2 linked regions of the Homo sapiens genome follow. The protein of the gene in region 1 interacts with the protein of each later gene in a pairwise test. Each region holds a gene or a part of one and is shown on either strand. Other genes may lie near its edges.

Evidence for each region.
Region 2: the proteins of AGPAT4 (region 1) and SPACA1 interact in binary tests that used the Homo sapiens proteins (3 or more experiments, as listed by UniProt).

The regions. Positions count from the first base shown.
Region 1 is NC_000006.12:161,131,054-161,134,876, forward strand, and holds part of AGPAT4 (1-acyl-sn-glycerol-3-phosphate acyltransferase delta), read right to left. Parts: 3' UTR 1-3,823. UniProt on the Homo sapiens protein: Converts 1-acyl-sn-glycerol-3-phosphate (lysophosphatidic acid or LPA) into 1,2-diacyl-sn-glycerol-3-phosphate (phosphatidic acid or PA) by incorporating an acyl moiety at the sn-2 position of the glycerol backbone.
Region 2 is NC_000006.12:88,054,024-88,057,846, reverse strand, and holds part of SPACA1 (sperm acrosome membrane-associated protein 1 precursor), read right to left. Parts: intron 236-3,823; coding exon 134-235; intron 1-133. UniProt on the Homo sapiens protein: Plays a role in acrosome formation and establishment of normal sperm morphology during spermatogenesis. Important for male fertility.

The sequences.
Region 1 (3,823 bases):
ATACCACTCACCTCCCTTAAAATTCAGCAGAACCAGAGGTGCCAGAAATGTCAAAAAATATCTAGTCATTCCAATATGTAAAACAAGACTGCCTTGTTTTAAAAAAACAAATTAAATGTAAAAATTGTATGACTCTTACCCAGTGAAAAGCTTTACTAACACAGCCCTGGGTGCTATTTCCAGATACTGAAAAGATCTAAGTAGGTGCTTAAGAACTGCTTTTTAACCCATTCACAACCTTCATATTAAACTAGGATGAGGCTGCAGGAGCTGAGGAAGGAAGGCCTGGGTGGGAACCTGGATGTCCTTTCCTGGAGAACAGCTTTGCTATTTCACTGGTAACTCCGAAACTTCAAAATATTGACTGTACAAATTACTCAAGTTTATTTTGGCCTAATTATTCTTAAGAAAGGTGGTTCTTTTTTAGAAAAGGGAAGCAGAAGCTAATTGAAATTCCATTACTCAGGCCTCTAGTAAGTGCCCCCTTCATGTAGTCACTATTCACTGAGGGCCATGAGGGTGAGGCCCTGCTGGGGGGGCAGGGCAGGGCTGTGAGCTCAGGAGCCCATCCCTGTGCTCAGAGAGATGGGACTCCAATGAGGAGACACACTATGTAGGTGCAATTTCTGATTTCTTAGTTTTTGACCAAAATAGCAGTAATTTCAAACAGTTGAATGTCGTGATCGATACTATGTCAGTTGGTGATGAATGCTGTGAATGGTATTGAATGTCCTGGACCAAGAGGAACAGCAACATGTCCTTAGTCCTCAGCCTAAGAAGTCCATCGAGTCCTTCTCTCAAATTGTACGTCTGTTGTTTTCAAAAGCCATTGTGACAGGTCAAAACCCTGGAGTATTTGGTTTGTGTTTAAATGTACTTGACACTCTGGAAACACTCAACCTAAGCCCTGGATGCAGGAGGCAGGGATGCTGAGGATGTGAATTAGAGTGCTGGGATGTGCTAATGCCTAGGGAGGCATCAGGCACTGTGCTGGCTTGGGGGATCCTGTGATGACTGGAACCTGGGCCTTCATTACGGGCTCCGGTTTTGGAGTGCAGAGGGATTGGCATTTGTAAAGACTGCTTGCTTACCCTTTGTCTGGCATGCACATTCAGGATGTGACTTCAGCTTCATTCATCCTGGCCAAACAAAAAAAGTTCAAAAAATTGTTTTCAATTAAATTTCTGAAGATCTTTGTAGGGAAGCACCCTTCTGAGATGAAACCAATTTCTTGTCCACACAGCCACCATATCCTTATATAGATGGGGAAAAATCCAGAAAAGGGGGATTTTCAGCAGCTGGCTTGAAGCCCCTGAATGGTCCCTTGGCAGAGGCAAAGAATGAGCCCAGAGCCTGAGATTCAAGATGCTGGTCTCTTCTGAACACACCGTGGAGCAATGTGGTGCACCTGCAGATGCCGCACTCAGCAGCCTGGAATGCCAGCTCTCATGCCCTCACCTAGAAACGCCTTCTCGGCTGAATGGCTGTTGGCTCTCAGCAGCACCTGTCAGCATAGCTCGGCCGCTTCTGCCCCGTGCCAAGGCGTGACTAGGACCAGAAGAATCAGAAAGCATGGTGGAGTCCGAAAGCATTGGCAAAGCCAGCACATCTGTGAGCATGTTACACATGGGCTTGCCTAAGTATTTCCTTCTCTGTGAACATCACTTAGGAGCTACGTCAGTTAAGGCATCGTGAGACACAGGTGTGGTGGAGGCATTATGAGGGGACTACTCCACAGGACCTTGGAGAGTTGCATTTTGGGGGGCTCTCCTAGAAGCTCTGGGGGAAGGAAGCAGTGGCCTCCTGGTCAGCTACAGACACAGGCGGGTTAGGGCCCGTCTTGCTTTCATGTTCTTTTAAACACAAATGGCAGCTCACAAATATTCCTCTAAATATTCCTCCATACAGCCTAGGGCCCCTCAAGAGACGTGCAAACCAAAGTATTTGTTTTTCTCACTTTATCTTTAACCTAGTATGTGGCAAGTCTGGACCACTGCTTTAGAGAAAGCTGGATTAAATCTCTTGAGCAGAAGTAGAGACCCTAGAGAATCTTCACTGGATACCTTGCTTCACACTTTGGTCAATATTTATGAATAAGTTCTAAAGCCTATGCGAAGCCCATTCTGTTTTGCTTGGGGACCAGCCAGACCACTCCTCCACTCCAGTGGGGCCTTTTTTGTGTCTTTCACATCACTGTTACAAGTTGTGGCTGGACAATTAATGACATTTAAATCACTGTCCCACATATGGATATATTAGAAAAACCCTAATGTTTTAAAATTTTTTTAATCATCAGCTGCTTTTACAAAGCTTTGCATGCATTTGTTTAGAGGATATTGCAGTCGAGATATTCCAGTACTACTGTGTGATCATATGAAAAAAGTTGGTTTTCTCTCTGTCAAAGTCAATAGGGTGGTAGACTAACTCACAGAGTGCCTTACTTCTTCCTCCCGATTAATCGTGTTCACTATATGGTGGCAGAATCAGTCCAGTCCCCCAGACCTCAAGCTGCATCTTCCAAATGGTTGGTGTCTTTTTAAGAGTCCCCGTGGGCTGGCTTTCCTGGAAGAAGTCCATTAAATTCCCTGCTTCTATAAGCTGCAGGAGTCGCCTAGGATATGGCCCGTCACGTCTGGGGATGACCCTGCACTGCTCTCCAGATTTCACTCAAGGTTCGTATTTTTCTCTGCCACCTTGAACTACAGAACAGGCTCTCAGTAGCGTGATAAGCTTTAAGCTAGAATGAGATGGAAAGGTGGGAAAGACAGACAGGAAGTGTAGCTCTTAGTCTATGGGGCTCTCCTTAGGGGACAAAAAGATGGCTTAGGCTCCGTGGGTTTTCAACTCGTAGAAAAAATAACCCTGGGAACCAAAGCAGTTGTTGTGTGCTGAGGAGATGGTGACCTCCGTGTGACCTGAACATGGGTGAAGGTATTTGAGGAGGCGTGATGAGCTTCCGTCCAGGAGTACCCGTGGTTGTCTGTGTCATTAAGGGCGCAGGGTGTAAGGAAACCAGGTTCCCAGGCTGCATAACAAAATTGTTCTTCGTGGACAGGTCAAATGACTGATGAGAAAGAGGTCCAGATCTCTCCCCAGCACGCCACATTCTCTTTCGGCTCTAAGGCAATTCAAAACTTGGCGCTCACTTAGTTATTTCCTAAGAGATTTCTGCCTGCATTCCTCCAGCCTGGAACCCAAGGCCCTAGCAGGCAGGCTGTTTGCTTGCTTGTGTGTTGTGTGATACCAGAGCCAATTCAGAAGAAAATTGAATGTCTGTGGGCCCCCGGATCTATGTTTTTAGAACTTACTTAGATTACTTCTGTGTTGAATGGAAGAATGAAAATGAGAAAAATAACACATTTTTAGTACGACAAGAAAATTTCTGAGCATTTTTGAGAGTAGCAACATAGAGGCAGCTTTCTAGTCTTTCATCCTTGGCTTAGTGCTTTAGGATTCTTAAAGTGTGCTCTTTTACCCTTGACACACCCCAAGAGGTAGATATCGTCACCCCCATTTTGCAGATGGGGAAATGAGTCAGCAAGGAAAAGTGTCTCACCCAAATCCTACAGCCGATGAGCTGCAGAGTTCAGGTGAATGGCGTAACTCAGCATCACGGACCCCTCCGAGAGACTGGCCCGATAATCCAGGCGCAGGTCCACTAGGGCGTGCTCACAGACACGCAAGGCTACACACCATGCACACCTCCACTTCTCCAAGGACCCCTCTTGCCTAAGGTCACGTCCTGGGCTTTTGCCCACAGATCTCTGCACACGGTGCTTCATGCCCTGTGCAGGGTGGGCAGATGTGCTGGGCGCTCCCATCA
Region 2 (3,823 bases), about 73 Mb from region 1:
TTAAAATTTTATGATTTCCTTTGAGTATGTCAACTGGTTGCCTCCTTCTACTCAGTGGCAACCTGAGGTGAAAAATATTTCCCCAGAGTAAACTCTTGCCCACAGTCTCCCTCCAATACATAATTCAACTCACAGCCACAATCTGTTGGTCCACGGCATTCTTCTACCCGTACAACACACTTGGATTCACCACCAGGGCATCCATTTGTTAATATAACTTCTCTAACACCAATACCTTTGGTTTAAAATTTAAAAAGGCAAATGTTAAGAAAAAAACTGATTCCAGAGTGTCTTCACTTTCCCACCTAGGTCTTTTCTTAAGACTTTTCTTCTAATTTCAGAAATTAAGTTTCTAAATTCAGAACGATAACACTTAAAATTTTTTTGGCTCTTCATTTTGAATTATTTCCTAAAACAGCATTTTCTGGAGTGAGTTACGTGAAACACTAGTTCCTCTGGTTACCATAAGAAAAAGGATTCCATGATCATACACATTTGAAAATGTTACATCAAATGAAATTAAAGGGACCGCTTTACTACGGAATTTTGAGGGAACTTTTAATACACTAGTAAAATAACATGCTATTGTGTACATTCGCATTGATCTAAGATGTAAAAACATTTTAACATCTTTAAAATCAGAATACATTTACAATTGATAACATGTCATAAATTAATTGGCAGTATTTTTCCTTTTTAGAGTACATAAAATGTACTTCTTACAGTCCATAAATTCGTGGATTTGATGGAATATAGTGGTATACAATATTTCCCAAACTTATTTGACCATGGAACTTTTTGGGGAAGCATGGGGAAAGTTTCTGGAGGAAAATAAAAAATCACATTTTAGCATAAATGATGCCTTTAAATATTTAGATTCATAAAATGTCTGTATTAAATATAGAGAGGAGAACCTATTACTGACCAAATCTCCATTTCCAACAAGATGCTCTCTTTAGATTGTCACACTTTTTGTAACAAGAACTTAACTCTCCTAACTGATCTCAGAATTCCAGAGTTGGCCTCACATCACCACAATTGAGAGAAATAACAAAACATGGGATTAGCTACATGTTGAACCGTGTCCCATGTTAAGACAGGCTAAGAAAGAGTCCATTTTTATTTCCTTAATTACCAGATTTCCTCTTCCAGCCCCTCTACGATGTTATCTTAGAGGGCAAAGGGAAGTTGATGACTAGAGGTGTCTTATAACTGCTTCTCCAACTTGACAGTGCATGCAAGTCACCTGGAGATTTACTAAAATGCAAATTTTGATTCAGCTGTTCTTGAATGGGTTTGAGATTCTGCATTTCTAACAAGCTCCCAGGTGATACTGATGCAGTCTGTGGACCGCACGTTGAATAGTAAGGGAGAAGGCTACATACGAAACAAGAAAATGGAAGGATGGAAGGAAGAAGGTCTTTGGTTAAGAGAGATGATGGCTGAGAATGGCTGAAGTACGGCTCCACTTGAGTTTATCAAAGTTTTTTTTTGAGACGGAGTCTTGCTCTGTTGCAGAGGCTAGAGTGCAGTGGCGCGATCTCAGCTCACTGCAACCTCCGCCTCCCGGGTTCAAGCAATTCTCCTGCCTCAGCCTCCTGAATAGCTGGGATTACAGGCGCGTGCCACTACGCCCAGCTAATTTTTGTATTTTTGGTAGAGACAGGGTTTCACCATGGTGGTCAGGCTGGTCTCGAACTCCTGACCTGGTGATCCGCCAGCCTCAGCCTCCCAAAGTGCTGGGATTACAGGCATGAGCCACCACGGCCAACCTGAAAGCGTCTTTAGAAGCACAGCCTTAATTCCGAAGTAATTAACATGCTATTGTTAATATTTTTAAAACAGGTTTTTTGTTGTTGTTTGTTTTGTTTTGTTTTTGAGATGGAGTCTCGCTTTGTCGCCAGGCTGGAGTGCAGTGGTGCCATCTCAGTTCACGCAACCTCCACCTCCCGGCTTCAAGCAATTCTCCTGCCTTAGCCTCCCAAGTAGCTGGGACTACAGGTATGTGCCACCGCACCCAGCTAATTTTTCTGTATTTTTAGTAGAGATGGGGTTTCACCATGTTGGCCAGGATGGCCTCGATATCTGGACCTCGTGATCCACCCGCCTCGGCCTCCCAAAGTGCTGGGATTACAGGCGTGAGCCACCGCGCCCGGCTTAAAGCAGTTATTTTATGTATTTATTTATTTAGCTAAATACAGTTCACTGAGATGCATGTAGGTGTGGGATTTTCTGTAATACCAAGTAACATCTAAAAATCTGCCTGGATATAAAAGAAAACTTTTTGACTGCTAAAATATTGTTTCAGGAGTTTAACAGAATTTTCATCAAGGCATTTTTCTCTTCTAGTTCTAAATTGGAAGGTTTTTAACATTTTCGGCATGAAATATTGCTTTTCCTAGTTTATTTTTTTCCTTATAACTTATTACCATCTGATACATTACATGTTTTACATATTATGTGTCTGCTCTTACTAAACTATACATTGCTTGGGGGCAGAGAGTTTTGTCTGCTTTGTCTGCTCATATCCCTAGCATCTATAACGATGCCTGGCACATAGTAGGCAAATAATTTTAAAAAAATAATCATTTGAGTGAGTACAATTTCTAAACTTGTCTTTAAATAATAGAAAACAATGGCAATTACTCGAACTGTCATAAAAATAATTCTCTACCTGTGAAAATTTCCGAAGTTAGTAGCTAAACAAAGATGTAAACCACAAATAAGTAATTGCAGGCTTACTACATGGATTTCTCTCATTTTATGACTCTTGACTTACTAAGAAATTAAGGTTAAAAAAAAAAACAGGTTAAAACAATTTTAAGAGATAGAAAGAAGAGTGGTTGCCAGGAGCTGGGAGGAGGGGGGAACAGGAAGTTAGTGTTTAATGGGCATTTTAGTTTGACATAATAAAAAAGTTCTCGAGATGGGCGGTTGTGATGGTTGCACAAGAATGTGAATATGCTTAAGTCAACGGACTTGTATGTTTAAAAACGGCTAAAATGGTAAGTTTTATGTTGGGTATACTGTACCACAATTTTAAAAAGCTTCTCCAAATAAAAACAATTCAGGTGTAATTTTTGACACCGCCACCCCTGCAAAATTCATTCTGATCTAGATCTGAATGGATTTTGTCTTCTTATCCTCTGATAATTGTCCCGTTTTCCCTCTCATCACTATTTTCTTTCCAAGGCAGATTCTATTTAGAAGAAATTTAATTTGATTGTGAATTATCTATGGTCTTCTCAGTACCCTGGTCTACAGCATTGTTTCTCAAAGGATAGTCCTCTAACTAGCAGCATCAACTTCATTGTAAACTTGTTAGAGAAATTTTATGTCCAATTTCTACCCATGGAATGATCAGACTAAGTCATATTCTTTGAATATTATCCTCCCCACAAAGCCAATACATCTTTTCTCCAAAACATGACACGCAAATTGGAGAAATGTAGAATTTAGAATGGACTATTACAAATAAGCAAATTCTTGATAAATTTGCCAACACAATATGTGGGAAGACATCTGTGAGATGCATTGGAAAATCTTTCGTCTTCTGAACATCTGTGAGATAGAGAAAATTTTACTTTGGTGAAGGCAGTTTATGTGCAAAAAAAAAAAAAATAGGGAGCTGGCTTAAAATAAGATTTAGAGATTATAAACTGAAAATATCTTACAGTTTAAAGCAATCACCCTGAGTTTTGTGTATACATTATAGTTATTAGAAATAAAAATCCATGAGAGATGCATGAAAGTACACAAGTTACAAAGTTGCACACTATCTGCTTTTACCTTTCCTCCCCCGCAAATTACAACATGGTTTATT